Regions from separate parts of the Homo sapiens genome. Here region 2 is linked to region 1. A link means that fine-mapping ties the variant in region 1 to the expression of a gene that starts in the linked region. Tissue or cell type: whole blood. Region 1 holds a variant in brackets; the other region holds the start of a gene. All regions are shown on one strand. Distances are between the middles of the regions.

The links. PIP is the estimated chance that this variant, and not a neighbour inherited with it, causes the effect.
Region 2: it holds the start of CLIC4, and the variant in region 1 is fine-mapped to the expression of CLIC4 in whole blood (INTERVAL, PIP 0.97).

The regions. Positions count from the first base shown.
Region 1 is chr1:24,761,806-24,777,236 of GRCh38, forward strand. The region is part of intron 1 of CLIC4 (chloride intracellular channel 4); the gene reads left to right. Among named protein-coding and RNA genes, the nearest start is that of CLIC4, 24 kb to the left of the region's middle. The variant A/T (reference allele first, on the strand shown) is at 6,048.
Region 2 is chr1:24,737,866-24,753,296 of GRCh38, forward strand. CLIC4 (chloride intracellular channel 4) reads left to right here and starts at 7,582. Exons shown (of 6, transcript NM_013943.3): 1 at 7,582-7,760. The coding sequence starts at 7,689. RefSeq lists enhancers at 5,073-5,678, 6,891-7,496, 7,497-8,102 and silencers at 7,184-7,893, 7,994-8,153, 11,615-11,694.

The sequences.
Region 1 (15,431 bases):
GGTAGATTTTGGAAGTGGTGTCAATAGGAGGATGTTAAGGAGGTATGTGAGAGAGAAAAGTGTGAGAAATGACTTGGGTTTGTAATTAGAGCCACTGGTCAAGAGTTGCCGTTCATGGAGAGGGAGGAGGAGCAGACAGAGTTCAAGTTTTGACTTGTTGAGTATAAGATGGCTGAGATGTCAAGTGGAGATGTTGGTAGAAAGTTGGACCTACAGATCTGTTCAGAAAGAAGTCTAGGCAGGGTAGAGATATTTGGGACTTGATGACATACATATATGTATATATGACATACACACACACATAGAATATTTGGTATTTAAAGTGTATGAGGCTGGATGTGGTAGCTCACACCTATAATCCCAGCACTATGGAAGGCTGAGGTGGAAGATTTGCTTGAGGCCAGGAGTTTTTGACCAGTCTGGGCAACATAGCAAGACCCCATCCCTGCAAAAATAAAAATAAAAAATCAGCTGGGCGTGATGTCACATGCCTATAGTCCTAGCTACTTCAGGAGGCTGAGGCAGGAAGGTTCACTTGAACCCAGGAGTTAGAGGCTACGGTGAGATATGATCATGCCACTGCACTGCCTGATGACGGAGTGAGACTCTCTCTAAAGAAAAAAACAAGTGTATGAGATCATTGTGTGGATGAGTAAAGAGTGAGGAAAATGCCTAGAAGCAAGTTCTGAGGAACTCTAAACACTTAGGGGTTGGGTAATGGAGGAGAAGCTAGACAAGGAGAACAAAGAGGAACTGTGGGGGAACAGTAGTGAGTGGTGAGAGGAAAACTACTAGAGTGAGGTAGGAAGAAGCTAGGAGAGGTTTGTAAGGAGGGAGTGACCAGTTGTATCAAGCTGAGTGTTTGTTGGATTTAACACCCTGGAAGTTACTGGCAACCTTCGTAGTAACAGCTTTGGTGGAGTAGTGGTGGTGGGAAGTCATAATACAGCGGGTAGAAGAATGAAATAGGAAGTAAGAGACTGGAGTCAGTGTGTAAAGCCAACTCTAACAAGAAACTTGGCTATGTAGAAGACACAGGTTGATAGCTGCAAAGGGGGATACATATGAAGGGAAGGCTTTAAAAAGTATGAGCTGTAAGAGCTGGGTTGAATGCTGATTTATTAGAGAAAGAAGTGGAAAATTAAAGAGAGACATGGTTTAATGGATGTCCTTCAAGGAATCTCCCAAATGGCCACCTATTCCACTAGGTCCCCCTCAGTGGTATGTATTGCTTCTTCGTATGAATTTTCATACAACCTTCCCTCCTACTTCTTTACTTGAGGCCAAGTAAACTCTGTGAGGAAGAAATTTTGTTCTTCATCTTTGTATAAGCCAGACTGTCCAACACTATGTTTTTTTGAAGAACCAGCTAAGACAGGTTCTTCCTTTTCCTGACCCCCACACTCTGCAAGTGCAAAAACCATTTTGTTGGTCTCTACTAAAGAAAGAATTGGCTGGGCATGCTGGCTCACTCCTGTAATCCCAGCACTTTGGGAGGCTGTGGTGGGCAGATCATCTGAAGTCGGGAGTTCGAGACCAGCCTGACTAATATGGAGAAACCCCGTCTCTACTAAAAATACAAAAATTAGCCGGGCGTTGTGGCGCATGCTTGTAGTCCCAGCTACTTGGGAGGCTGAGGCAGGAGAATCACCTGAACCTGGGAGGTGGAGGTTGCAGTGAATCGAAATCATGCCACTGCACTCCATGACAGAGTGAGACTCCGTCTCCAAAAAAAAAAAAAAAAAAAAAGAATTAAGTTCAAATCTATAGTCTGGCATTCAAGTCTATGACCTTCATAGTCTAGCTCTAATTAATTGGACAAATTTATCTCCTACTTCTCCTGGGTCTTACAGTCCAGCTAAATTGAACTCTTCTTTGTTTCCATATGAGCTATCTTGTTTCCCTGAAGCAACCTTTCCCATCTCTTCCATTCCCATTTGTTTAAACTCCATAATCCTGTAAATCTCCATTTAAATGTGTCTGCCTTTGTTAATCCTTCAAGATTCATATTTCATGCCTCTTATATGACTCTTCGGTTATCTATTTTGTTGATAGTTTTGCATGTATGTCTTATCTTTGCTATAATAAAGTAAGCTCCAGGAGAGTAGATTCCTTGTCTTATTCATCTTTGCGTCCACCACGATATTTAGTAGATTGTCTGCCTCATAATAGGCATTCAGTAAGTCTTATTGAATGAGTAAATGCACTTAAGTATAGTTGATAGACCTTAACCTACTGCTAGTAAATTATAGTTGGCTAAAAATATTCTTTATAAGTGCTGTGCTTTGGAAAAGGATCATCTGCTTAGCAGCACTGTTTGGTGGGTAGTTGTTGCCCAGGCTGGAGTGCAATGGCACAATCTCTGGCTCACCGCAACCTCCGCCTCCCGGGTTCAAGCGATTCTCCTGCCTCAGCCTCTCGAGTAGCTGGGATTACAGGCATGTGCCACCACACCCGGCTAATTTTGTATTTTTAGTAGAGACGGGGTTTCTCCATGTTGGTCAGGGTGGTCTCGAACTCCCAACCTCAGGTGATCCACCTGCCTTGGCCTCCCGAAGTGCTGGGATTACAGGTGTGAGCCACCACGTCCGGCCAAGGCTCACACTTATAATCCCAGCACTTTGGGAGGCGAGGCAGGTGGATTGCATGACCAGCCTGGACAACATGGTGAAACCCTGTCTCCACAAAAAATGCAAAAATTAGCTGTGTATTGAGGCACACGCCTATGGTCCCAGCTACTTGGGAGGCTGAGGTGGGAGGATTGCTTGAGCCCAGGAGGCGAAGTTTGCAGTGAGCCAAGATAGTGCTACTGTACTCCACCCTGGGCGACAGAGCAAGACCCTATCTCAAGGGAAAAAAAAAAAAATTCATACTCTGGTATCTTCTGGCATTTCACAGAAGGGCATCTGGATTCCTGCCAAAATTGATTCTTTTGTCTTTTATTAAAAATAATCTTTCAAGCAAATTTGAGATTCACCACTAAAGCCCTAAATTTGTTTTTATTTACTTTGTGTTTTAACTCTCTCTCACTGCAGGTTTGTTGTTGTTGTTGTTGTTGGTTTTTTGGTAAGTACAGAGACTACAAATTTAAAAAATCTTTCATTAAACATGTCTTTACTAAGTGCCTACTAGGAACTGCTCTAAGCTCTGGGAAGCAAGAAAATGTACCCTCAGGTGTCAGTAATGAATGAGCTATAAGGAAGGCGTACTATACACAATTATCTTAGATGGGATAATATTTTCCACTAGAGTTATTGTAACTCACTGCCTGGGAGGCCTTTTCACTTCTAGGAAGATCTGGTTTTCCTATATTTAGAATAGATACTGTTCCCATTGACTGTTTTCTGTTGGATTTCTTAAATGCATGAGATAGAAGAAGTATATATGGAAAAGCATTTCATATTTAATTGAAATAATATATACATTTATGGAGTGCTTTCTATGTGCCAGGCACTGTGTTGACTACATCTATGAAATATTAACTCATTTGATTGTTACTCAATAAAATGTTTGCTGAAGGAATATATAGAAGCTTTTATTTTTTTCCGTGCACAGGCTTAATTTCAGAGGAGGTTGGGAGGAAAAGAAGAACTAAAAGATCACATGATTGGGAAAAAGCAAATGCCTAACAAGAAGCCAGAGAAATAGGTCGAGAGGGTGATGCAAATGACTGGGCTCAGTTCATATTTTAGATTGAAATAAACAGATTTACTTGTTTTTCCTTGCAAAGTAAAAAAGTTTTAAGGGAGAGTCTGCAACTGTGTTTTGACCCTGAGCATGTGGCTTGATAGCCATTAAGATTAGGAGTGTTGAGAGCAGCTATTGTCCTGATGACTCAGCAGGAACCCCTGTGTTAGATTATACCGTTGCCTCCGTATTGCATGTAAAAAGTTCTTTATATCTTTTGAAATATTTGAGATCATAGATCCCAAAATCAGAGCCAGGGATGATTGTTTACTTGAAGTATCATTTGTATTTTTCTTTCCTTCTTTTTCTTCTTTCTTTCTTTCTTTTTTTTTTTTTTGAGACAGAGTCTCGCTCTGTGACCTAGGCTGGAGAGCAGTGACGCCATCTTGGCTTACTGCAACCTCCACCTTGTGGGTTCAAGCAATTCTCCTGCCTCAGCCTCCCAACTAGCTGGGATTACAGGCGCCCACCATCATGCCCGGCTAATTTTTAAAATTTGTTTAAATTTTAATTTTAGTTTTTTTTCTTTTGAGATGGAGTCTCGCTCTGTTGCCAGGATGGAGTGCAGTGGCGCGATCTCAGCTCACTGCAGCAGCCTCCACCTCCCGAGTTCCAGCTATTCTCCTGACTCAGCTTCCTGAGTAGTTGGGACTATAGACGTGCCACCACGCCCAGCTAATTTTTGTATTTTTAGTGGAGACAGGGTTACACCATGTTGGCCAGGATGGTCTCAATCTCTTGACCTCCTGTTCCACCCACCTTGGCCTCCCAAAGTGCTGGGATTACAGGTGTGAGGCACCACGCCCGGCCTATATTTTTAATAGAGACAGGGTTTCACCATGTTGGCGAGGCTGATTTTGAAATCCTGACCTCAAATGATCCACCTATCTTGGCCTCCCAAAGTGCTAGGAATATAGGCATGAGCCACTGCACCTTTTTTCTTTTTTTTAGATATCAGGTCTTGCTATGTTGCCCAGACGGTTTTTTTTTTTTTTTTTTTTTTTTTTTTTTTTTTTTTTTTTTTTTTTTGAGACGGGGTCTCACTCTGTCACCCAGGCTGGAGTGCAGTGGCACAATCTCAGCTCACTGCAACCTCCGTCTCCTGGGCTCAAGTGATTCTTGTGCCTCAGCTTCCCTAGTAGCTGGGACTACAGACATGTGCCACTGCAACTGGCTAATTTTTTTGTATTTTTAGTAGAGACATAGTTTCGCTATGTTGGCCAGGCTAGTCTTGAACTCCTGGCGTGAAGTGATCCGCCCACCTTGCCCTCCTGAAGTGCTGGGATTATAGGTGTGAGCCACCACGCCTAGCCAGTATTTCTGTCTAGGTGCTGAAATAGTTTCTTTTGGAATTGAAGACCATTTGAATTAATATTTCAAGTAGGCAATTGAGTCATCATAATGGAAGACTGGATCTTTAGTATTATGCTGTTAGAGTATGCAGTGTCCAGTCTTTTGGCTTCCCTGGGCCACACTGGAAGAAGAATTACCTTGGGCCACACAAAAAATACACTAACAATAGCTGATGAGCTAAAAAAAAAAAAAAAAAAAAAAAAGAAAAAGAAAAGAAAAACCAAAAAAACCTTATAATGTTTTAAGAAAGTTTATGGATTTGTGTTGGGCTTCATTCAAAGTGGTCCTGGGCCACATGTGGCCCACGGACCTCAGGTTGGACAAGCTTGATGTAGTGGCTAAGAGTGTGGACTCCCGAGCCATGTGGCCTGTGTTTGAATCCTAGTTCTACCCTTCACTAGTTGCCTTGGTGTCCCCACTGGGGTAATCTTGGGCTTTTGTAAAGATTATAAGAGTTAATATAAGAAAAGCCCTTAGAGTCTAACTCATAGTAAGCCTTGTTTGCTTACTATTTTGCCTTTAGGAATGCAGAATTAAGACCATGTTGGCTTGGCCTATGGTTAGTTTATTATATTCAATATACCATATGTGGTTTCAACCTTCAGGATTAGAAGCATCTGCCAGACTGCCACTACCACCAGGTGGGAACTTTTCATTCTTTATCAAAAGAGCAGGGTTAGTACAAAAAAAGTTCAAGGTTAAGCTTGAGTTTGCTCTTGAATTAACTTCAGTGAACCCTGATCCTGTTGACACTTACTAGGTAACTAAAGGACAGTCAGATTGGACTCTGCCATCTTAGTCCATCGGCCTCAGCAGCTCTTGCTGGACTTGTAGCTAAAGCTTGAGAGTCCATTAGTAGTGAGAATGTTTTTCTTTTTTTCCTCTCTCTCTTTTTTGTTAATGTGAAAGTGCAAAAGTAAAGAGGAATAATCTATGACATAGGATCTTATTGGTTCTGTACAAATACTCTTAATTAAAAATTTTTAATTAAAATTATATATATATAT[A/T]TTTTTTTTGGCATGGAGTTCCGCTCTGTCGCCCAGGCTGGAGTGCAGTGGCATGATCTCGGCTAACTACAACCTCTGCCTCCCAGGTTCAAGCAGTTCTGCCTCAGCCTCCCGGGTAGCTGGGATTACAGGCGCTTGCCACCACGCTTGGCTAATTTTTGTATTTTTAGTAGAGACGGGATTTCTCCATGTTGGTCAGGCTGATCTCGGACTCCTGACATGAGGTGATCCGCCCTCCTTGGCCTCCCAAAGTGTTGGGATTACAGGTATGAGCCACCACGCCCAGCCAAAATTTTCATTTTTTTAAGATATGGGGATCTTGCCATGTTGCCCAGGCTGGTCCCAAATTCCTGAACTCAAGTAATCCCCTTGTGGTGGCGTCCCAAAGTGCTGGGTAAAAGTACTTTTGAATTATGGATTTTGGCTTCCTGTGCTACCAAATTTCACTATTTCTTGATTTTTGTGGTATTCACCTTTACAACTGAACAGGTCATATATTAACTAGCCTTTATCTAATGCTTTCTTTAAAGGAAATGTAGACGTGCTTATATTTTTAACACATCTACATTTCTCTTAAAGAGAAGAGATTAAGCTCTTTTTATTTAATTTGTCTGGAAGAAGTTGAGATAGTGTAGATCTACAGGTTTTATATTTAGTAATTTTTAAGGAGTAAAAATGAAGTCTTCTAATTTTTCTAGACTCTATCTAAGATTATTGTTTTTAGACTTTTTCATCTTATACCACAATGAGATGATAAAGCTTAAAACATTAACATGTCGGCCGGGTGCGGTGGCTCACGCCTGTAATCCCTGTACTTTGGGAGGCTGAGGCGGTCAGTCAGGAGTTCGAGACCAGCCTGGCCAAGATGGTGAAACCCCATCTCTACTCATAATACAAAAATTAGGAGGCATGGTGGCATGTGCCTGTAGTCCCAGCTACTCGGGAGGCTAAGGCAGAAGAATCACTTGAACCCAGGAGGTGGAGGTTGCAGTGAGCCGAGATTGTGCCACTGCACTCCAGCCTGGGCGACAGAGTGAGACTCTGCCTCACCAAAAAAAAAAAAAAAAAGAAAAAGAAAGAAAACTTTAGCATGTCTGTAATTGGTAGATATAATCTCTATCATTTATTTAATGATAATTAAAAATAGCGGGGCATGGTGGCACATGCCTGTGGTCTCAGCTACTAGTGGGGCTGAAGCAGGAGATTGAGGCTGTAGTGAGCCACTCTGATTGCACCACTCCACTCCAGCCTGGGTGGCAGAGTGAGACTCTGTCTCAAAACAAAAGAAAACAAACAAAAAAACATAATGTAAGAATCATGAAGTGACTTTAAAATCTTTATTTTATAATAATGTTATAAGTTTTCTGAAGCTACTTAATTTATCACTATACAGAATAAACAGATATATAAAAAATGATCAGTAAGTTTTTGTTTCCCTACTAAAGCCAGAATAATGGTCATGAGGTAATAGATAGCATTGGGTGCTTACTATGGGCCAGGCACAGTGTGCCAGCCGTTTGCATGTGTTAGCTAATTTAATCCTCATATAAACTTTGAAATAGGTGCTATCAATACTGTTTAACACATGAGAATTAGAGAGATCATTGTTTGGGTATGGTTGCAGGGCCAGTAAGTAGCAGTACTGTGATTTGTACTAACGTCTTTGGGATTTCAGAACCTGAATCAATAACTTTGTTTATGTTATTTTTCTCTATTTATTTGAAACTTGAATGCTTTCCTAACAGAATTTCTTATGTTCTGTTTTCAGTCACCCTGAAAAAAAAATTCTGAGAATATTTAAGGATATTTCTAAAACATACTAACAACTAGTGAGCCTAGATGGTTCATTAGATGACTTTGGTTGCTTTCAGTTCTCTTGGTAAAATTTGAAAGGCAACTAAAATTTCCATTACCTCACCTCGTTGCATTTTGGGGGCCTGGTTAATTAGTATTTTATAAAGCACTTTAGAGGGTTTATTTATAAACTTGTTAAGGAACCTGACTTGAATGTCTTTTTTTTTTTTAAGGCAGAGTTTCACTGTTGCCCAGGATGGAGTGCAGTGGTGTCATCACAGGTCACTGCCACCTTGACCTCCTGGGCTCAAGTGATCCTCCTCCTTTAGCTCCCTGAGTAGCTGGGACTTGCAGTGCCACCATGCCCAGCTAATTTTTTTTAAATTAATTTTTTTGTGGAGATGAGGTCTCACTGTGTTGCCTAAGATGGTCTTGAACTCCTGGACTCAAGTTATCCTCCCACTTTGGCCTCCCATTACAGGCATGAGCCATTGTGCTTGGCCTCACATATTTTGATTTTAGGATTGTTTTCCAATTGAGAAATGTCTAAATGGTTCAAGTTTAACAAAAATCATATACTAATTTGTTAATTATTTTTCTGTGAGTTCTTTTCTTTCTGCCCTCTCCCTTTCTCCCTTCCTCCCCCTTCAGAGGTTGGTAGAAAAAAAAAAAAAAGGCAAGGAAGTTTCTTTTTGTGGAGAGAGGAAATGACTGTTGGTTCAAGACTTTATCCATATTAGGTATAAACTAAATATAGACGTGTAATCCAGGAGTGAAGTCACATCTATAAAGTTTCTTAAGCAAAGCTAATGAGATCAGCCAGTGCTTTTGGATCTGTTTTTTCCCCCCTTGCTTTTGGCTCACTTACCAAACTGATTAGTCTTATAGTCTGCCTGCCTTTGCTTCTTTAAAAAAAGAATAAAAAAATTATAAGGAATCTTTCTGTAAAACAAGCACACAAATTTTTAAAAAGTTGCTTTGTATATGAAGCATAGTCACTTATGCCTCCCTTTGAGGGGAGGTTATAAATAAATTAGCTTCTTTAATTTCTTGACCTTGTCATTTTCCTCACACCAATTCTTCTTCTTTTTTTTTTGTTTTTTGAGTTGGTTTTATCCTTGAGTCTTTGTCACATATTTTTACTGTGAGGCTGGACTCATCTTTGTAAGTTGTAAGAAACGTGTTTTACTTAGTATTTTCTTGGTTTATTCCATTTTTAACCATTAAAGCAGATCTCAGTATGGCTAAATGGTAATAGGATTTCTTCTGATTGGCTGGTTAGAGAGATTGTAATAGAACGGAATGATGGAATAAATCTGCTTCTGGTCACAGCACATGTCCTTCTCAAATAAGGACTTTGAAAAGTCCCCCAAAGCATTCTTACAATAATTATTTCCAACTCTTGTGTTCCTTCTTAGAGCCCTTTGCAAGCATTCCTAAACACTCAAGCCCTTACGAACGTGCTATGCTTCTGAAGAGAAGAACTATATACACACATCTGTGGCGCATCTTACTATAAATACTTTGGAATACAACTAATTGTGTAAAAAGTTTAGCTTAACATATTTCGGGGTTTTAGGGATCAGTTCATGAAACTAAATGTTCTCCAAGCCTAAGTTGGAATCTGTTCTGAATCCTTCTCTGACCATGTTGTTCCCTTAGCAGAACTACTCTTTCCTACTGTTTGGGGCAGTTTGTGCATTTTTATATTCTGCCACTCATCTGAATCACCTTTAATTACATTTTTGTTCCAGGCTAGAATGTAAATTCCAGGAGATCAAGGATAAGGGATTATTTTCTTTTTTCTTCTTTTTATATTTTAAATTTAAAAAATTATTATGTTCTTCTAAAGACTAAGGGACTATTTTCTTCATCTTTTATATCTACCCCCTACCACAAACCTTTATATATAGGAGATAATTCATTAATTCAGTAAGCATTTATTAGTGTTTTTTGGCAAATTGGTGTGCATAGTATAGGAATATAAGCATGTAAGAGAGAATATATTAAATATTTTCTGTTATTGTGTTCTATATTACCTCATAGTAAAATACCAGAGTTAAAAGTAGTATTCAGTTATTGAACTTGAGACATGTAATTGGGGTTTTGTAACTAGCTACTCACTATATAGCTATTGGTCTAAACCTAACAGATTGGTTTAGAGAACTAGAATATTATGTAACTGGAAGGCCAGGTTCAAGTCCTATGTGTATCCTAATTGATCTGCTACCTCATCTGTCAAGTGGGTGTATTTCTTGGAGGTGATGTTCAGTCCAGTTTGTATTATTTTATATGCCAAGGTAGCCTTAGGCTTGGCTTAAGCTTAGGCTTAGGCAGAAAGTTGAGCCCTGAGATTCCAACGTCAGATCCAGAGAATTAAATTCTCATAATTAGAAGCAATCTATTAGATAACAAAAATAGAGCCAATACAAATTCTTCATGATAATGGAGGCAGTTTGCCAAAGAAAGAAAAAATATTTCAGGAGTGAATTCTTTGACCCGAAAGAATATATTTTATTTCCCAGGTGAGCTCCTGAAAGAAAGTTTAAGGAAAGATTTTGTTTGTTGTATCTAAAATAAAGCAGACACAGAACCATTCTTCTTCTTCTTTTTTTTTTAAAGCCAGTCAAATTTATAGAATTTTCCTTCATCATATTTGAGTAACCTGTGCATTGAAATCCGAAGTAAAATATTTCAGTAAGAAACATCCTGCTATGTTATACTCTTCAGATATTTGAAGTTTTAGGCCAGCAAAGAAGATAGACAAGAATTCTGAATATTAACTTTCACAGCTGAAATACAGTGTTGAATATATAATTTTTGCGGAAACTAATTTTGTAATGTATATATATAGAGAGAGACGGAGTCTTGCTCTCTCGCCCAGGCTAGAGTGCAGTGGCACGATCTCAGCTCACTGCAGTCTCCGCCTCCCAGATTCAAGCGATTCTCCTGCCTCAGCCTCCTGAGTAGCTGGAATTACAGGTGCCCGCCACCGTGTCCAGCTAATTTTTGTATTATTAGTAGAGACGGGGTTTCACCATCTTGGCCAGGCTGGTCTTGAACCCCTGACCTCATGATCCACCCACCTTGGCCTCCCAAAGTGCTGGGATTACAGGTGTGAGCCACAGCGCCCGGCTGATTTTGTAATATATTTTAATGAACATTTAAAAATACATAATCCAAAATTAAAACAAATGAGGAAGATTCATTAATTTATTCATGTTTGTTGAGAGCTAATATTTTATACTATTAATAAAATATTGTATAGCATTTTCATGATTGCAGTTTTTCATTGTTTATGGTCATCTTCATTAATCCATTGTTCTTAGTCATTTAGAGGTCTGAAATTTGGCTTTAAGCAATATTGTGATATATATCCTTACAGCCAATTTTCTGTGCATGTCAAGCAATTGTGTTTTAAAAGTCCCCCACATATCTCATTTACCCTCTGAATTCTTTATTTTCCTTTTGTTTACTTAAACTGTAATCTCTCTTTTTTCACACTTCACCTGGAATGTAATCTCTTAAAAAGAAAAAACTTTCTGCAGAATTTAGGTTTTTTACAAAGGGAAAATTGGATTTTTGACTCTACTACTGAACTCTTGGTGGAGTGTCTAGTTAAAATTGGTCTGAGAACTTGATGAACAGAAATAGCTGCCTTAAGCATAGATGGGGAAGAATAATATTAATTTCTTGAACATTTCATTGTTTTCTTGTACTCTTGGGATTCTTTGTGAATCTAGTTTATACTACAGTATAATGTGTATACCCTTAAGGAAAGTGGGTTGCTGCATTTTGACTTGCAGAAGCATTTCACCTATGTCCCAACATAGTTGTCTTTAGTTGATAAACAAGGGAAGACCCTGGCAGTTAGTGAATTTATCTTTGGTTAGCAGATATTTTTTAAAAATGAGGGCTAGACAATGAAAAAGTTTGAGATGCACCTTTTTTTTTTTTTTTTTTTTTTTTTGACAGGGCCTCACTTTGTCATCCAGGCTAGAGTGCAGTGGTAAGATCATAGCTCACTACATCCTTGACCTCCTGGGCTCAAGTGATCCTCCTGCTTAAGCCTTCTGAGTAGCTAGGACTAAAGGTGTGTACTACCATATCTGGCTAATTTTCTTATTTTTCATAGAGATGGGGGTCTCACTGTGTTGTCCAGGCTGGTCTCAAAACTCCCAGCTTCAAGTGATCCTCCCACCTTGGCTTCCCAGAGTGTTGGGATTACAGGTGTGAGCCATTGCACCCAGCCAGAGATGCACTTTTTTTTGATGTAACCAAAGTGAGAATAATTATAAAGGAGCATGTTTCTTTTTTATTTTAATTTTAATTTTTTTTGTTGTATAAATGGAGTCTCCCTCTGTGGCCCTGGCTGGAGTGCAGTGGTGCGATCTTGGCTCACTGCAACCTCTGCCTCTTGGAGTCAAACAGTTCTCCTGCCTCAGCCTCCCGAGTAGCTGGGACTACAGGTGCACACTGCGACACCTGGCTAATTTCTTTTGTATTTTTAGTAGAGACGGGGTTTCACCGTGTTGCCCAGGCTGGTCTTAAACTCCTGAGCTCAGGCAGTCCGCCTGCCTTGGCCTCCCAAAGTGTTGGGATTACAGGCGTGAGCCACCACGCCCAGCTAAGTAACTTCTTTTTTAAATAAAATAATCATGGATTAATATAATAAAAACAAATTAGTGTTCTGTGTTTCTGAAATTAAGTCATTTAGTGCCAAACTTTCACATTCTAAATAGTTGTATCTGAAAATGTCTTGACTTCTCTTCCATTCTTTAAAGATGGTTTTGTTGGAAATAGAATTTTGAGTTGATTTTTATTGTTGTTATTGTTATTCTTTCAGCAATTTAAAAAATGTTCTTGACTGGGCGTGGTGGCTCATGCCTGTAATCTCAGCACTTTGGGAGGCTGAAGTGGAAGATCTCTTGAGCCCAGGAGTTCGAGACCATCTTGGGCAACCTAGTGAGACCCTGTCTCTACAAAAAATTGAAAAAATAGCTGGACATGGTGGCAGGTGCCTGGTCCCAGCTACTTGCGAGGCTGAGGTGGGAGGATGGCTTGATCCCTGGAGATCGAGGCTGCAGTGAGAGCTGCGCTTCAGCTTAGGCGACAGAGCGGGACCTTGTCTGAAAAAAAAAGGACCGAGGGCAGTGGCTCATGCCTATAATCACAGCACTTTGAGAGGCCAAGGTGGGTGGATCACCTGAGGTCAGGAATTCAAGACCAGCCTGGCCAACATGGTGAAAACCTGACTCTACTGAAAATACAAAAATTAGCTGGATGTGGTGGCGCATGCCTGTAATCCCAGCTACTGGGGCAGCTGAGGCGGGAGAATCGCTTGAACCCAGGACGCACAGGTTGCAGTGAGCCGAGATCACACCACTGTATTCCAGCCTGGGTGACAGAGTGAGACTCCATCTGAAAAAAAAAAAAAAGAAAGTGATTCCATGTTTTCTGGCCTCCATTACTCCAAATGATAATTCAACAGTCATTCAAATTATTATTTCCTTGTATGCAATGTGTTGTTTTTTTCTAGCTACCGTGAAGATTTTCTTTTTCTTCCTTTCTTTCTTTCTTTTTTTTTTTTTTTTTTTTGCTTTTCATTATTTCAATTATGATATACTTAGGTATGGCATTATTTGTATTGAATCTGCTTGATGTTCATGAAACTTGAATCTGTAAATTTGTCTTTTTTTGGGAAAATTTTGGCCGTTATTTCTTGAAATATTTTTTTCCTCATTGTCTCCTTCTGGAACTCTAAAATATAAATGTTTTAGTATTTTCCCGTAGGTCTTTGAGGCTCTTTTTTTTCTGTTCTTCAAATTGAATAATTTCTTGGTTCTGTCTTTATGTTCACAGACCTCTTTCTTTCTTCTCTCTCTCTTTTCTTTCTTTCTTTTCTCTTTCTTTCTCTTTCCCTCTCTTTTCTTTTCTTTTCCTTCTTTATTCTACTGTTAAGCCAATCTAGTAATATGAAAAAATAATTTAGATATTGTAGTTTTTAGTTCTAGAATTTACATTTTTGTGTGTGATTTCTTTCCCTACTGAGATTTCCTATCTTCCTTTATTTTGAGCATATTTTTCTTTCGTTATTTGAACATAGTTACCATAACTGCCTTAAAATCCTTGACTGCAAACTGTAGAATCTGGGTCATCTTAGGGTAGTCTCCTTGATTACTTTTTTTTTTTTTTCTTGAGAATGGGTCAGGTTTTTCCATTTCTTCTTATAGGGAGTAATTTTGGATTATATTCTGGATATTACAAATGATAAATGATAATTTATATATATAAATTTTGTTATGCCCGTCTTAAAAGCATTGATTTTCTTTTCTAAAGCAGGCAATTGATTAACTTACCTGAATTCAAGCTGCAAAACTGTCCCCCCATAGTAGGTGGCAGTGTACATTTCAGTTCAGTTCTCTTAGCTGGCCTACTTGGAGCCTGCTCTGTGCATGTGTGTTTCACGGATCAGCGAGAGATTTAGACAGATTTATGCAGATTTTAGGGCTCCCCTGTGCTGGTTCTCTCTCTCTCTCTTTTTAATGGTGTCTTACTTTATTTTCTTTGCAGTGGTGATGGTTGCTCTAGACTGTTTTTTGGCTTTTAAAGTCAGCAGAACTGTGAATTTTCCATTGGAGTTTTAGCTGCCCTACATGGTGCAAGGCTAAAAGATAAAACTTGGGGAAACTTGTCCAGTGCAGTTCCTTTCCTCCAAGTGCCAACTCCCCTCCAATATTTGCCTGCTTTTGTCACTCTCCAGTGCCTTCAGGTGTTTTTGTCTGGAAGTTATAGCTGTTATGATAGGCAGAGTTGATCCTATAGGAGGAACTGCCTGGTCTTACTAGAAGACTCAAACTTATTTTTTTAAAAACAGAAACCTTTAAATTTTAGAATAGTTTTAGATTTGTAGAAAAATTGCAAAAATAATACAGAGTTCTGAAATTTATTTTAAATGAAAGTATTTCTAAAATATATTAATGCTTCCTTGACTTTTGAAAATGCTGAGTTTGGCCAGGTGTCATGGCTCATGCCTGTAATCCCAGCACTTTGGGAGGCTGAGGCAGGTGGATCACCAGAGGTCAGGAAACCCTGTCTCTACCAAAAATACAAAAATTAGCTGGGCATGGTGGTAGGGGCCTGTAGTCCCAGCTACTCGGGAGGCTGAGGCAGGAGAATCCCTTGAACCCAGGAGGCGGAGGTTGCAGTGAGCAAAGATCATGCCATTGCACTCCAGCCTGGGCGACAAGAGCAAAACTCTGTCTCAAAAAAAAACCCGAAAATGCTGGGTTTAACTGCCAATTAATGTCAACATTCTGAATATAAATTCAGTAATGCAACAATGGCCTCGGGAGCCGTTGAGGCATGTAAGACTATTTTTGTCTTTCTGCTAAATGGCCTCAGCTATTGTGCTTTTCGAACCTAAATCTCCTTTGTGTGTGTGCATGTGTGGATGGGTGCATGCGTGCATGTGTGTGTGTATTTTGTATTTCTTCCTTTGCCAACTTAGCTCTATTGATGCAGCCCATTTCCGTTAATTTTCTATTGTAATTTGTTGTGGCTCAGTACACCAGATAAACTGTTAAAATT
Region 2 (15,431 bases), 24 kb before region 1:
TATTTTTATTTATTTATTTTTTTTGAGACAGGGTGTCACTCAATCACCCAGAACTGGAGTGCAGTGGTGTGATCACGGCTCACTGCAGCCTTGACCTCCTGGGCTCAAGTGATCCTCCCACCTCAGTCTCCTGAATAGCTGGAACCATAGGTGTGCACCACCATGCCTGGCTAATTTTGGGGGTTTTTTAGAGAGATGAGGTCCCACTATGTTGCCCAGTTGTTGCCCACTATGTTGGTCTCAAACTCAAGACCAAGCCAGGGCAAAATAGTAGGACCTCATCTCCACAAAAAAAGGCTCAAGTGATCCTTCTGCCACAGCCTTCCAAAGTGCTGGGATTATAGGTGTGAGTCACCATAACCAGGCAAGTATCCTTTATTTAAATGCTTGGGACCTCCATAAATATATATATATATATACCCACTGTGTCCCCACAAAAATTAAAACTTAAAAATTAAAAAAATAAATGCTTGGGACCAAAAGTGTTTCAGATATCAAATTTTGGATTATTTTGAATTTTGGAGTATTTGAGTATACATAATGAGATATCTTAGGGATGGGACCCAAGTCTAAACACGAAATTTATTAATGTTTCATATATACCTTATTCACATAGCCTGAAGGTAATTTTATACATTTCAAATAATTTTGTACATGAAACAAAGTTTGTATTCAGTACCTTTTTTTTTTTTTTGAGACGGAGTCTCACTCTGTTGCCCAGGCTGGAGTGCAGTGGCGCCATCTCGGCTCACTGCAAGCTTCGCCTCCCAGGTTCACGCCGTTCTCCTGCCTCAGCCTCCTGAGTAGCTGGGACTACAGGCACCCGCCACCACACCCGGCTACTTTTTTGTATTTTAGTAGAGACAGGGTTCCACCGTGTTAGCCAGGATGGTCTCGATCTCCTGACCTCGTGATCCGCCCGCCTTGGCCTCCCAAAGTGCTTGTATTCAGCACTTTTTTGTGGAATTTTCCACTTGTAGTGTCATGTTGGCACTCAAAAAGTTTCAGATTGTGAAGCATTTTGGATTTGGGGTTTTTGGAGTAGGGATGCTCAGCCTGTAATAGCTAGCACTTATTAAATGCTGATTATTAAATGTTTTAAATGGATTACCTCATATAATCCTCACAATGAGTTCCTGAAGTAGGTTCTGTTATACAGTAGTATCCTCTATATTCACAGTTTTGATTTCTGCAGTTTCAGTTACCCACAATCCAAAGATATTAAATGGAAAATTCTAGAAATAAACCATTTATTAGCTTTTTAAAAATTAATTAATTAATTAATTTTTATTTATTTATTTATTTTGAGACAGAGTCTTGCTCTGTCACCCACATTGGAGTGCAGTGGCACAATCTCAGCTCGCTGCAACCTCCACCTCCCAGGTTCAAGCAATTCCTGCCTCAGCCTCCTGAGTAGCTGGGATTATAGGCGTACATCACCACACTTGACTGATTTTTTGTATTTTTTTTTTTTTTTTTAGTAATGATGGGTTTCACCATGTTGGCCAGGCTGGTCTTAAATTCCTGACCTCAAGTGATTCGCGCATCTCGGCCTCCCAAAGTTCTGGGATTACAGGCGTGAGCCACCGCACCCGGCCCCATTTATTAGATTTAAGTGGCATGTCAGGGTCTTCATTCTGAAGGCTTCTGTGTATATATATTAAATAAATTTGTATGCCTTTTCTCCTATTAACCAATCTGCCTCATGTCAGTAACTTTTCAGTGAACTTTTAGGGGACCGGGAGCCTACGGCCTCCACAGTATGGTGCAGTGATCAGGGTGATCAAAGCTACTGTTCTGTTCTGGAAGCCGTAGTGAAGAGAACCCAGGAAACTCACCTGCCTGCAAAGGGGACACAATTGGAAACACCAGTTATTTTATCAAGGTTTTGACCAGAATGGGATATTTTAAAATATGAGCAAACTGCTTTGAGGAATTGAAATAGACTTTATAGAACTGATAAACGTCCCTTAGAAAGACTGGCCTTGTGCCTTGTTTATGCAGGTCCTTTAGAGGGTTCCTGACCTGTGGCCCTGCAAGCTAAAACTTACATCTTGTGATATAGAAAAGAAGACTAAGACGTGACCACACTTGAACAGGTCTTTTTATGAGGATAATGACTGTCTCCAAGGATCATTTAAATTCTAAAGAAAACTATTTACAAGTTAATCCCTGCTCCCCCATCCAGTCATTCTCCTTCCCAACCCCTTATTGCCCCTAAACAGAATTCTTCTCCCCCTTCACATAGCCTGTTTTACCAGGATGCAAGCTCCCATTCTTTCTGTAACCTCAAGATGATATATAAGTTTCCGTAATTCATGGGGGAGGTGGGTCTTCATTCTGAAGGCTCCTGTGTATGTATGTGAAATCAATTTGTATGACTTTTCTCCTATTAAAAAAATAAATAAAAAATAAGTTGCATGCCATTCTGGGGAGCATGAGGAAATCTTTTTTTTTTTTGAGACAGAGTTTCGCTGTTGTCACCCAGGCTGGAGTACACTGGCACGATCTCGGCTCACTGCAACCTCTGCCTCCTGGGTTCAAGCGATTCTCCTGCCTCAGCCTCCCGAGCAGCTGGAATTACAGGTGCCTGCCACCAAGCCCAGCTACTTTTTGTATTTTTAGTAGAAATGGGGTTTCACCATGTTGGCCAGTCTGGTCTCGAGCTCCTGGCCTCAAGTGATCCACCTGCCTCGGCCTCCCTAAGTGCTGGGATTACAGGCTTGAGCCACCGTGCCTGGCCCTCAGTTTCCTTATTTGTAAAATGGGGACAATGAAAATTATGCCTTGCAATGCTGGGGATGGTGGCTCATGCCTGTAATCCCAGCACTTTGGGAGGCCGAGGCGGGTGGATCACTTAATTAAGGTCAGGAGTTTGAGACCAGTCTGGCCAACATGGCAAAACCCCGTCTCTACTAAAAGTACAAAAATTAGCCAGGTGTGGTGGCACATGCCTGTAATCCCAGCTACTTGAGAGGCTGGGACATGAGAATCACTTGAACCTGGGAGGTGGAGGTTGCAGTGAGATGAGATTGTGCCACTACACTTCAACCTGGGCGACAGAGTGAGACTCCGTCTCAAAAAAAATAAAAATAAATATAAATAAATAAATAAATAAATCAAGCCTTGCAAGACCATGATGAATAAATATGATTGGATATGAAAGCACCCAGCTAGGTGTCTGGCATGCAGTGTGAGAGCTCAGTGACCGGTCAAGAATATGGACAGATGGGAATAATACCAACAGCTAGTGTCTACAGAGCACTTACAATCCAAGCTCTTAACATAGACTAATTTATCAATGATCCTATTAAATATTAATAGGTACTAATTTTAGATCCATGTTTACAGACGAGAAAATGGTACTAATTTAGATCCATTTTTACTGATGAGAAAATGAAGCACAGAGAGGTTAAGTAAGTATCCTGAGTTAGTAAATAACAGAAGCAGGATTGGAACCCAGGCAGTCTGGCCCCAGAGTCCATGTGCATAGCAGCTCATTCTGCTGCTGAAATTGCAGAACTTTGGGCTGAGACAGTCAGCGAGCAGCACCACAGAGTTAGAAGTGGGAGGAGGAAAGTGTCATCAAGGGAGGCTTACTGGAGGAAAACCTGACCCCCTGTGTAGGGGCAGTCATAAACACAAACCACCTGGCTTCCCAGACTGGAAGAGCGTGACAATCCAAATGTCATGTCAGGGGTACATGAAACCATAGGATAAACATGGTACAGTCACTCACTCCATAAGCTATTTTTTTTTTTTTTTGAGACAGAGTTTCGCTCTTGTTGTCCAGGCTGGAGTGCAATGGCGCAATCTCGGCTTACTGCAACCTCTGCCTCCCAGGTTCAAGCGATTCTCCTGCCTCAGCCTCCCAAGTAGCTGGGATTGCAGGCATGCACCACCATGCCTGGCTAATTTTTTGTATTTTTAGTGGAGACGGGGTTTCTCCATGTTGGTCAGGCTGGTCTCGAACTCCCGACCTCAGGTGATCCATCCGCCTTGGCCTCCCAAAATCCTGGGATTATAGGCGTGAGCCACTGCGCCCGGCCCACTCCATAAATTTTTATTGTGTACCATGAGCTGTCCTCTGAGCCAGGAATATAGCCATAAACAAAACCAAACAAAAAATCCCTGCCCTTATGGCATTTATGTTCTAGTGGGAGAAGACAGACAATAAGCAGATAAATAGGTAGATATGTATCAGAGGGTTGTAAGTGTTATGAAGAGAGATAAAGTGGAGGGTGGAGTGAAAGATAGCAACTTGCAACGTTGCATAGGGTGGTATTTGGGGAGAGCGCTCTGAGAAGATGACATTTGAGCAAAGAGCCAAAGGAAGTAAGGGAGTGGGAGTTGCAGAAATTCTGGGGGAAGAATGTTCCAGAGAGGGGGAAGAGCAAATGCAAAGGCCCTGAGGCCACAGTGTGCTTCGCATATCCAAGGACTAGAAAGGAGGCCAGTGAAGCTGGGGTGGAGAGCACAGGGGAGAATGGTAGGAGATGAGGTCAGAGGGGTGTGTGTGGGAGGAGACAACATGTCTCCACCCATCTTAAAGATTTCTGTGTGCTATAAAAACAAGCCTGAGTAAAGAATGTAAAGCAGGCATGCAATTCAAAATTCGAAGAGGAGACTTGACTGCTATGTGGTTAGGGGGCCTCCCCTGCATAAACATCCTCTTTCCCTTTCACCCACTCCCAGGACTGACTGCCCATCCATGGGAGCCATATGAGGGCGGAACTTGGGAAACTGTAGGTGTGACTGAGACTACGTCTAAGCACAGGCTCTGGGTCTGAGCCTCTTCCTGGGGGGCTTCCTGTTGGGTAGGAGGAGCCCAGGAGATCATCACCACCTCAGGGCTCTGTGGAGAATGCCCCTGGCTTCCTCCTAGCTAAGATCTCTGTTTAGTCAATGAAGCCTAAAGGGCCCTGGTCTGTTCCTCCTTCCATACCCTGGTGCTGTGAGGCCAGTTGGAGCCTGTGAAGGGCAAGTCACCACCGGGAATATTTGCTGCCTCTAACTCAAATTCTTTTTTTTTGAGATGGATTTCGCTCTGTCGCCCAGGCTGGAGTACAGTGGCGTGATCTCGGCTCACAGCCACCTTTGCCTCCCCGGTTCAAGCGATTCTCCTGCCTCAGCCTCCCGAGTAGCTAGGATTACAGGCATGTGCCACCACACCCGGCTAATTTTTGTATTTTTAGTAAAGATGGGGTTTCGCCATGCTGGCCAGGCTGGTCTCGAACTCCTGACCTCAGGTGATCCACTCGCCTCGGTCTCCCAACGTGTTGGGATTACAGGCATGAGCCACTGTGCCCGGCCTCAATTTGATCAATTCTCAGGTACATTGAGTTTCTGCTGAATTGTTTTTTGGCTTAGATCTGCTTTGAACTGATTCACCATTTGGTTCCTTTTTGGTAGGGCAGAGAGGGTGGATTCTGGAAGGAAACTTTGCTTCAGTTCATGATTCTATGAAAAATTAACACGGTTCAGTCCAGAGTCTAGTCAGTCACTTCAGGATTTTCATGGTTCAAGCCCCCATCTAAGGGGAGCCTCCTGGAATTTATTTATTTATTTTCAACGAACTAGCCGGGCATAGAGAGAGTAGAATATGATGCCACATTCTAGCCTGCAGGGGTGGTAGGGACAGAATAAGTCTCAATGCAGTTAACAGCCATACTGACGGAGCAGCACATATGGTAAGGCAAGAATCAGTAATTAGCCCCACCCACTTCTAGATAATGAAACTGAGGCTTAGGGGTTTTAAGGACACTGCCTTGTCAGATTTGAACTTAAACAGTCAGACTACAGAGCACGTGTTCCTGACCACTGGGATACACTGGCTCTTTCACAGAGCCTCTGTGAGAAAATTTGAGCAACTTACTTTGGGCTGGCAGAGGAAGAAATTGCAAGTTTCACTGTATTTTCATGCCTACGTACAATTTGTTCAAACATTCTGGTATGTGCTAGGCACCGAGGATATGGAGACAAACCTCCCATGTCTGGGCCTCCTGGAACTCACTATTTATCCCAACCTGGGAAGTTGGGAGGAGTAGCTGTGAGTCAAGTATTATGGAAAGTCAGAAAAGGGCACAAGTAATTGTTTCCAGAGGAGGTGAAACTTGCCCCAGGCACTCAACAGCAGCAAACTAGGACCAGGTGCCTACAATCTCAAGGCAAGCACAGCTCTTGCCCTCGGGGGCTTAAATCCCAGGGCAGTTTAACTGGTTTGCGGACCACCTACTTCAGAATTGTCCTGGTGCTTGCTAAGATGTGGATTTCTCTTTTTCCCAGAGGATCTGGGAAACACAAAAAGCGGGGCTGCGTGTAGCACCTAGGTGATTCTGATGCACACTCAAATTTGACAGGTGAGCCGGGGGGAAGAAATGGGTGTGGGCAGTGGGGAACAAGATGGACAACGACTTGGAAGTCCTTAGTGGCCTGCAGGCACTGAGATTGCAGTTCAAGATCTTGAGCTTTGGGAGTTGTTACTCTCCAAGGGCTAGCTCAGAGCCTGAAACACAGTAAGGTTTCATAAATATTTGTGAATATGCGCCCGGCGCGGTGGCTCACGCCTGTAATCCCAGCACTTTGGGAGGCCGAGGCGGGCGGATCACGAGGTCAGGAGATCGAGACCATCCTGACTAACACGGTGAAACCCCGTCTCTACTAAAAATACAAAAATTAGCCGGGCGCGGTGGCGGGTGCCTGTAGTCCCAGCTACTTGGGAGGCTGAGGCAGGAGAATGGCGTGAACCCGGGGCAGAGTTTGCAGTGAGCCGAGATCGCGCCACTGCACTCCAGCCTAGGCGATAGAGCCAGACTCCGTCTCAAAAAAAAAAAAAAAAAAAATATATATATATATATATATATTTGTGAATATGCTGGCTGCCAAGATCGAAACGATCAGGAGCGTCAAAGGGAAAAACGAAGTCAGAGGCAGAAGAAAAAGGTGTTCCCCAGGCGATGAAAACTTTCCAGTAAGTTGTCTTGGAAAAGGCAACTCCGCGTAATAGAGGGACTTGGGGAGGTAGCCGCTGCGGGAAAGGGCGATGAGTCCTGGGGTGCTGCAGCGGGGGAGTGGGTAGGAGGCGCCTCCTAGCTTCCCCAGGGCGGCCGAGGCATGAGGTCACCTGGCACAGCAACAGCAGCAGCTGCGGAGGACGCGCAGGCGCTGCGGCGGGAGGCAGTGTCAGGCTCGGGCCCCTGGGGAATTCCTCCCCTCCTTTCCCCCCCGCACCAGTCCCCTAGAGAGGCGTACCCGGGTCCCGCCCGCCAGAGCCTGAGCTTTGTACCGCCCACCAAGGCCACGCCCCCTACCAGCTGTGGGGCGCCGCAGAGGTCCTTTCTTCGGCTCCGGAGCGGTCCCTCCGCCTTCCCCGCTCGAGGCCACGCCCCCGTGCTCCTGCCGCCTTATTTTCCCCGGAGAGTCCCGAGGCGCCGCGCCTTGGCCCTGCCTACAGCCCGAGGCCCCGCCCCCGGCGCCCCTCCCAGCCGTTTGAAGCGGCTCGGGCTGCGGCTGGCTCAGAGTGGCGCGGGGGGCGTGGGGCGGTGCTGAGGAGCTGAAGCCGTGGCCAGCTCGACGCCGGACAGTCCAGCGAGCAGCACGGCGGGAACCGGCAGCCGGAGCAGTCCCGGAGCAGAAGCAGCAGCAGCAGCAGCAGCCCTCGCCGTTCGCGGAGCGCAGCCGAGCCGGCCATGGCGTTGTCGATGCCGCTGAATGGGCTGAAGGAGGAGGACAAAGAGCCCCTCATCGAGCTCTTCGTCAAGGTGAGCGCTCGCCTCGCGGTCCCGCCCGGCAGATCCCCCGGCTCCCTCCCGGCTGCGGGGAGCGGCGTCCCGGGGCTCTCCTGAGGCGCCCCCGCTCGGCGCCAGCACCCGTCCCGCTGCGGGCACCCGCGCCCCCGGCCCATTGTCTGGGGGCCGCCCGCGCCTTCCCGCCTCCGAGGGCCCGTCGAGGGGTCCGGGTTGGGGACCCGGGCGGCGGCCACCGTCTCCAGCGCGTAGGCATCGGCGGACGCCAGACCAGCGTCCCGCGCCCGGGTGGGTCGGGAAGAGCCCACGGGCGGGACTTGCCTGCCCCGGGGCCCCAGCGCCGGGCGCGCGCGGGTCCTGTCACCACCCCCCGCCCGGGCGCCGGGGCCCGGCCCCACCCGCTCCCCAGCGCTCCGGTCCGCCGCCCGGAGCCCGAACTGCGGCCCGCCGCCCGATGAGCTTTCAAACGAACTTCTTTGAACGCGTTTTTGAAAAAGCATTTGCTCCCCACTGGTCTGAAACGGAAACTTTAATTTTCGATGCAATCTTAAACAAATTTACCAAAGAGCAGGTGCTCTTGGACCTTCGGAAAAGACCGAGATTCCCAACTTGTGTTTTTCTGTCTTGGGCATTTACTGGCTTTCTCGTTTCTCAAGCGCGGAGTGTTCTGTATGATGCAACATTTTGGCTTCTCCCCCCGGCGTTGCTGCTTCGGGAAGGATTGTGTGTGCCCTTTTGTTTTGAAAGAAATTGAGGGAGAGAATTCTTAACTTGCTTGGGCTTTAAAGGGTTGGTTTTCCCTTGTGTCTTCAGCTTTCATGTGTGGAATTTATTTGCTTACACATACTACCCCTCTTCCTTTGCTTTTCTCTTTAATACTTTTTATTTTAGCAAAGGAGAGAGTCGAAGTTATAAACATCTGGATCCAGCTCCTTCCCTCAAAACTTAAAAAAAACACTTTGAGCTTCTTCCAGCCACTTAAAAAGCCAGGCTCATTCAGAGCTAGGCAACATACCGGAAAGTAAATGGTCATCTAGAACTATTGGGTTCTTTTTTTTCCCCGAGTTTTTACTTTAAAGAAAGGACATTTCAGGATGTGTTTAAGAGATAGAGAAGGGCTGGGCGCGGTGGCTCATGCCTGTAATCGCAGCACTTTCGGAGGCCGAGGTGGGAGGATTACTTGAGTCCAGCCTGAACAAGATGGCGAAACCCTGTCTCTACAAAAAAATTCAAAAATTAGCTGGGAGCGATGTTACGCGCCTGTACTACTCTGGAGGCTGCGGTGGGAGAACTGCTTGAGCCCGGGAGGTCGAGGCTGCAGTGAGCCACGTCGCACCACTGCATTCCAGCCTGGGCGACAGAGCAAGACCCTGTCTCAAACAAAAGAGATGGAGAGAAGAAATAATCTGCATTTACCTCTGCAGTCTTCAGTAATGACTGGAACAGTGTTTGCCTTAGGATTTTCTTTCAATTGTCAATTTTCGATTTTTTTTTTTTTTTTTTTTTTGGTCCAGGGAACTGAAACAGCAGACAGGTATAGAACCCCCAAAATATCAAAGCGTTTCGGTTACTTTGAGTGGCAGATATAGTACTTTGAGATGCGTAGAATGTAGGAAGGAACCTGAAATACAAGAAAGGAAGGAGGCCGGGCGCGGTGGCTCACGCCTGTAATCCCAGCACTTTGGGAGGCTGAGGTGGGCAGATCACGAGGTCAGGAGATCGAGACCATCCTGGCCAACATGGTGAAACCCCATCTCTACTAAAAATACAAAAATTAGCTGGGCGTGGTGGCGCGTGCCTGTAGTCCCAGCTACTCGGGAGGCTGAGGCAGGAGAATTGCTTGAACCCGGGAGGCAGAGGTTGTGGTGTGCGGAGATTGCGCCACTGTACTCCAGCCTGGGCAACAGAGTAAGACTCCATCTCAAAAAAAAAAAAAAAAAAGAAAGAAAGGAAGGGTGGTGGGTGGAAAACAGCATGGAGAAGGGAAACAAGTGGGCCAGAGATGAGTTAAAAAAAATTTTTACTGAGTGAGGAATAGGAAGGAATTTCCATAAACTCAAAAAAAGTGCATCCATGAATAATCTGTAAAACATGATACTTAACGGTGAAACTTTAGAACAGTATTAAACTTAGAATAAGCTACTATCGGGCCGGGTGAGGTGACTCACACCTGTAGCATTTTGGGATGCCGAGATGGGGAGATCACTTGAGGCCAGGAGTTCGAGACCAGCCTGGCCAACATGGTGAAACCCTGTCTCTACTAAAAATAGAAAAATTAGCCAGGCATGGTGGTGGGCCCAGCTATTCGGGAGGCTGAGGCATGAGAATCGCTTGAACCGGGGAGGCAAAGGTTGGAGTGAGCCAAGATCAAGTCACTGCACTCCAGCCTGGGCGACAGAGTGAGACTTCGTCTCAAAAAAAAAAAAAAAAAGATAAAGCTATTATCAGTTATGGCTCTATTCAGTATTCTATTATTCTATTGGAGGAGCTAATCAAAGAAGACAAGAAAAATTAAGTATCTGAATTAGGAAGAGATCAGTGATTAATGCCCTGCTTACTATTAATTTCATCTTTCAGTTAGAATAGCAGAGGGGCGTGTGCAGTTTTCCAAACTTGAGTCACTTGCATCCCCTTTCTGTTTTTCATATTTGTGTTGAGAACCACTGAAAATCATCCTTCCTACCACTAGTTGTAAGCCTTTCTCATTGGGCTTGGTGGCAGAGAATCAGGGTTCAAGTCACAGTTCTTTACTCCTTGGTTGGGTGACCCTAGGCAGTTTGTTTTCACTCTTTAAGCCTTGTTTGTCTCATTTGTGAAATAAGAAATGTTTTCTGCTACCCAGTGATTCAACATAGGCAAACTTTGCACTGATACAGATCAGGTTTTTTGTTTTTTTTTTTTTTTTTTTTTTTAATGAGATGGTGTCTCGCTCTGTCACCCTGGCTGCTGGAGTGCAGTGGCGCGATCTCGGCTCACTGCACCCTCTGCCTCCCAGGTTGAAGTGATTCTTCTGCCTTTGCCTTCCGAGGAGCGCATGCACCACTACGCCTGGCTGATTTTTGTATTTTAGAAGAGACTGGGTTTTACCATGTTGGCCAGGCTGGTCTCAAACTCCTGACCTTAAGTGATCTGCCTGCCTTGGCCTCCCAAAGTGCTGGGATTACAGGCTTGAGCCTCTGTGCTTGGCCCCTAGACCAGTTTGTTTGAAAGGGGAAAAAAGGACAGGTAAAATGTGGTAAAGGGCATTCTTGATCTCTTCTCAAAACCTACGTGTGGGAAATGCAAATGGGGGAAATACCCTTGTAAATATAGTTATTTTGAAAGCAGTGGACCAGGTGTGGTGGCACACTCCTGTAATCCCAGCCTTTTGGGAGGCGGAGGGGGGTGGATCACTTGATGTTGAGACCAGCCTGGGCAACATGGCGAAACCGCATTTCTACTAAAAATACAAAAATTAGCCACGCATAGTGGTGCATGGCTGTAATCCCAGCTACTCGGGAGACTGAGGCAGGAGAATTGCTTGAACCTGGGAGGCGGTGGTTGCAGTGAGCCGAGATAGTGCCACTGCACCCCAGCCTGGGTGACAGAGCAAGACTCCATCTCAAAAAATAAAAATTAAAAAAAAAAAAAAGAAAGTAGAGAGGGTGCAGAGGCTGTGGTTGTCCAGAGTGGTATGTTGAACAGTGTTAACCTGCCAAGAGGTATCTGAGTTTGTAAAAGAAAACTATTTACAGTTGAAGCACATAGCATGTATGGAAATTAGAAATTTGGTGGTGGCGCTAGGGGAAAGGCCAAGAGATGTAATGGGGCTTTGAGCCTACCTGTCTAGCTAGCACTGAGCTTCACATTTAAGAGAGAGAGATGAGCACCTTCTCAAATAGTATGACTGAACTCACAGCTGCATTTCCTTCCTTGTGAGTAGTTTTTGGAGTTGTCTGCCTGTGAGCCCATTAACTCCCTGTCATCTATATAACAGCAGGATGGTTTTTTTGGTTTGTTTTTGTTTTGTTTTACCCTCAACATCTGGAGGATAGATAGGATGCCCTCTCAAAAGTAAAAAAGGCAGCTGGGCTGTGGTGGCTCACGCCTGTAATCCTAGCACTGTAGGAGGCCAAGGAGGATGAATCTTTTGAGCGCAGGAGTTCTAGACCAGCCTGGGCAACATGGCGAGACCCTGTCTCTACAAAAACTATTAAAAAAATTGCCAGGCACAGTGGCTCACGCCTGTAATCCCAGTACTTTGGGAGGCTGAGGCAGGCGGATCTCTTGAGCCTAGGAGTTCGAGACCAGCCTGGGCAACGTAGCAAAACCCCATCTCTACAAAAAATATAAAAAATTAGCTGGGTGTGGTGATACATGCCTGTGGTCCCAGCTGAGGTGGGAGGATTCCTTTAGCCTGGGAGGCAGAGGTTGGCTGTGAGCCGTGATCGTGCCACTGCACTCCAGCTTGGGTGAGACCCTATCTCTAAATAAATAAGTAAGTAACTAAGCTGGGCCTGGTGGCCCACGCCTGCAGCCCTAGCCCTAGAGGCTGCGGGTGGGAGGATTGTTTGAGCCCAGGAGTTCGAGGCTGCAGTGAGCTTATGATCATGTACCTGCACTCCAATCTGGGTGACAGAACAAGACCCTGTCTCGGGAGGAAAACAACAAAGGCTTATAATGGCAATCATCCTCAACAGTGGAGATGCTCTCTACCCCACTCAGGAGCCTGGTAGGTGTATATATTTCCAGCTGGGAACCACCAACAGATACGGTATATTTGAGACCTTTTAGCAAGGGCATAAGGTCCCTTGTAATCTGGGTTTCTTTCTTTCTTTCTTTCTTTCTTTTTTTTTTTTTTTTTAAGACGGAGTTTCGCTCTTGTTACCCCTCAGCCTCCCGAGTGGCTGGGACTACAGGTGTGCACCACCACACCTGGCTAATTTTGTATTTTTAGTAGAGACAAGGTTTCTCCATGTTGGTCAGGCTTGTCTCGAACTCCTGACCTCAGGTGATCAGCCTGCCTTGGCCTCCAAAAGTGCTGGGATTACAGGCGTGAGCCACCGAGCCTGGCCTACTGCCTGAGTTTCTAATCCAATATGTCCAGTTACTAATTGTGTATCCCAGGATACATCACTTAAACCTGTCTGTGCCACATCTGCACAGTTGGGATATTAGTAGAACAGTCCTATGGGATAAATTAATATATGTAGTATGCAACAATCTTAGAACAATGTCTAGTACACAGTAAGCAAATAAATGCTAGTTGTGTATAATTTTGTATGAATATATATTTATAGGCAGATCTCCCCTACTAGATAGACAGTAAATTCCTTGAGGATAGGGTGTGCATATGGTTCAGAGTGCCTGCAACTTAAGAGGATGCCAAATGTTTGAAATGAGATTGTGCCCTTCTTTCAGAGAATTCTGTTGTTGAGCATTTTGTTGTCAATGTATGTCTCTACCATGCTTTGGAATTAGAAACCACTTACTGAGATCCCGATGGTTGGAGCATCAAAGCATGGTTCTTCATCCTGATTTCTCTAGCCTCCAGTCTCCAAACCCAGTGTAATTTTATGTACTCACCTCTTTTTTTTCTCCATTTAATACTTCCAGTCTTTTTTTTTTTTTTTTTTTTGAGATGGAGTCTTGCACTGTTACCCGGGCTGGAGTGCAGTGGCACGATCTTGGCTCACTGCAACCTCTGTCTCCCGAGTTCAAGCGATTCTCCTGCCGCAGACTCCCGAGTAGCTGGGGTTACAGGCACCCGCCACCATGGCCAGCTAATTTTTTGTATTTTTAGTAGAGATGAGGAGCTAATTTGTATTTGTAGTAGAGACGGGGTTTCACTATGTTGGCCAGGCTGGTCTTGAACTCCTGACCTAGTGATCCACCCGCTCGGCCTCCCAAAGTGCTGGGATTACAGGCGTGAGCCACCGTGCCAGTCTTTTATATATTTACTAGTGTTTCTTCTTGGCTATGTCCAGAATTTGGGGAACCAAGATTTTTGTTTGGGTAAAACTAAATATTAACTCTTGAACCACAAATGAGAGTAATAGAGATGGGGTTTCTCCATCCAGCTTGGCCAACATGGCGAAACCCCGTCTCTACTAAAAATACAAAAATTAGCCGGTCGTGGTGGCGGGCGCCTGTAATCCCGGCTACTCGGGAGTCTGAGGCAGGAGAATCACTTGAACCCGGGAAGCGGAGATTGCAGTGAGCCGAGATTGTGCCATTGCACTCCAGCCTGAGGGACAAGAGCAAGACTCTGTCTCAAAAACAATCAAATCAAAAAACAGAAAGTAATCCCTTTGCGGAGTTCAGTTTTATGGGCTGGAATTTAAACTTGTTGTTGTGCCACTGTGAACTGGGATGATCACTGTCAGCAAGTAGTCACCAAGCTGCTGGGATTGGGGTGGTGTTTGTAAAAAGTTAATCTGGTGCAGGGTGGCATAACACATAAGAGTCTGTTTCTTTTGAGATATTTGGCAGAGGTTCCTAATGTGCTTGGACTCTGGAGCCACACTGCTTGACTTGAATCTGGCTTCTAGTATGTCAGGCAAGTTTTTAAGCTCTCAGTGCTTCAGTTTCCTAACTTCTAATATCAGGATAATAATAATAGCAATTTTATATGGTTACTGAGGGGATTAAAACTGTTAATCTGTGCATATTAGTTAGGGTAGTTTAAGTTGCTGTAATAAGTTATCCCCCCACAAACAGTGGTTCAAATATGATGGAAGTTTATTTCTCACCCCTCAGTCCAGGAGAATGTCTTAGATGTTAGGGTGGCTTTCCTCCTCAGAGTCATTAAGGGACCCGGGCTCTTTCTAGCTTATTTGTCCACTAACTCCCAGAGCATTGTCCTCTTCTGAATTGTCAAAGTTGGTGGGTGACAAGTACTGTCTGTTGCCAGTGGGGGGTGGAAAATATGGAGGAAGCACATCTTAAGGGCCCCAGCTCAGAAGTTCTACCTGTTACTTCCGGTCACATTCTATTGGAGAGAACTTAATCACATAGCTTCATCTGCAAGAGAGGCTGGCAAGTGTGGTCTAACCGTATACCATCCTATGTAAAGCTTTAGGAAGAGTGCTTGACACATAGTAAACACCTGCTTTTGTCATCGATAATAGTTTATTATTATTATTTTTTTTTGAGACGGAGTCTCGCTCTGTCGCCAGACTGGAATGCAGTGGTGCAATCTTGGCTCACTGCAACCTCTGCTTCCCGGGTTCAAGCGATTCTTCTGCCTCAGCCTCTGGAGTAGCTGGGACTACAGGCGCGTGCCACCATGCTCAGCTAATTTTTGTATTTTTAGTAGAGATGGGGTTTCACCGTGTTGGTCAGGATGGTCTCGATCTCCTGACCCCATGATCTGCCCGCCTTGGCCTCCCGAAGTGCTGGGATTACAGGCGTGAGCCACCGCGCCCAGCCTAATAGTATATTATTTTTAAATGTGGGCTCTATTAGTAGGATCAGGGAGTTCTGTAAATCCTTGAAATTACAGTAAAAAATTCTAATGTGAGGCTTTTTTTCTGGAAATTCCTAAACCAAGGCTAAGAACCACTGTTCTAAAAGAAGTAAATAGTGGAATTCTTAGAGTCAAGAATACTTTATATAAGCAAGGTATAAAAGAAGGGCTTGGGCTAGATGATCACAAAGGTCTCTTCTAGTTATTATTAACTATGACTTAAAGAATGTACCGGCATG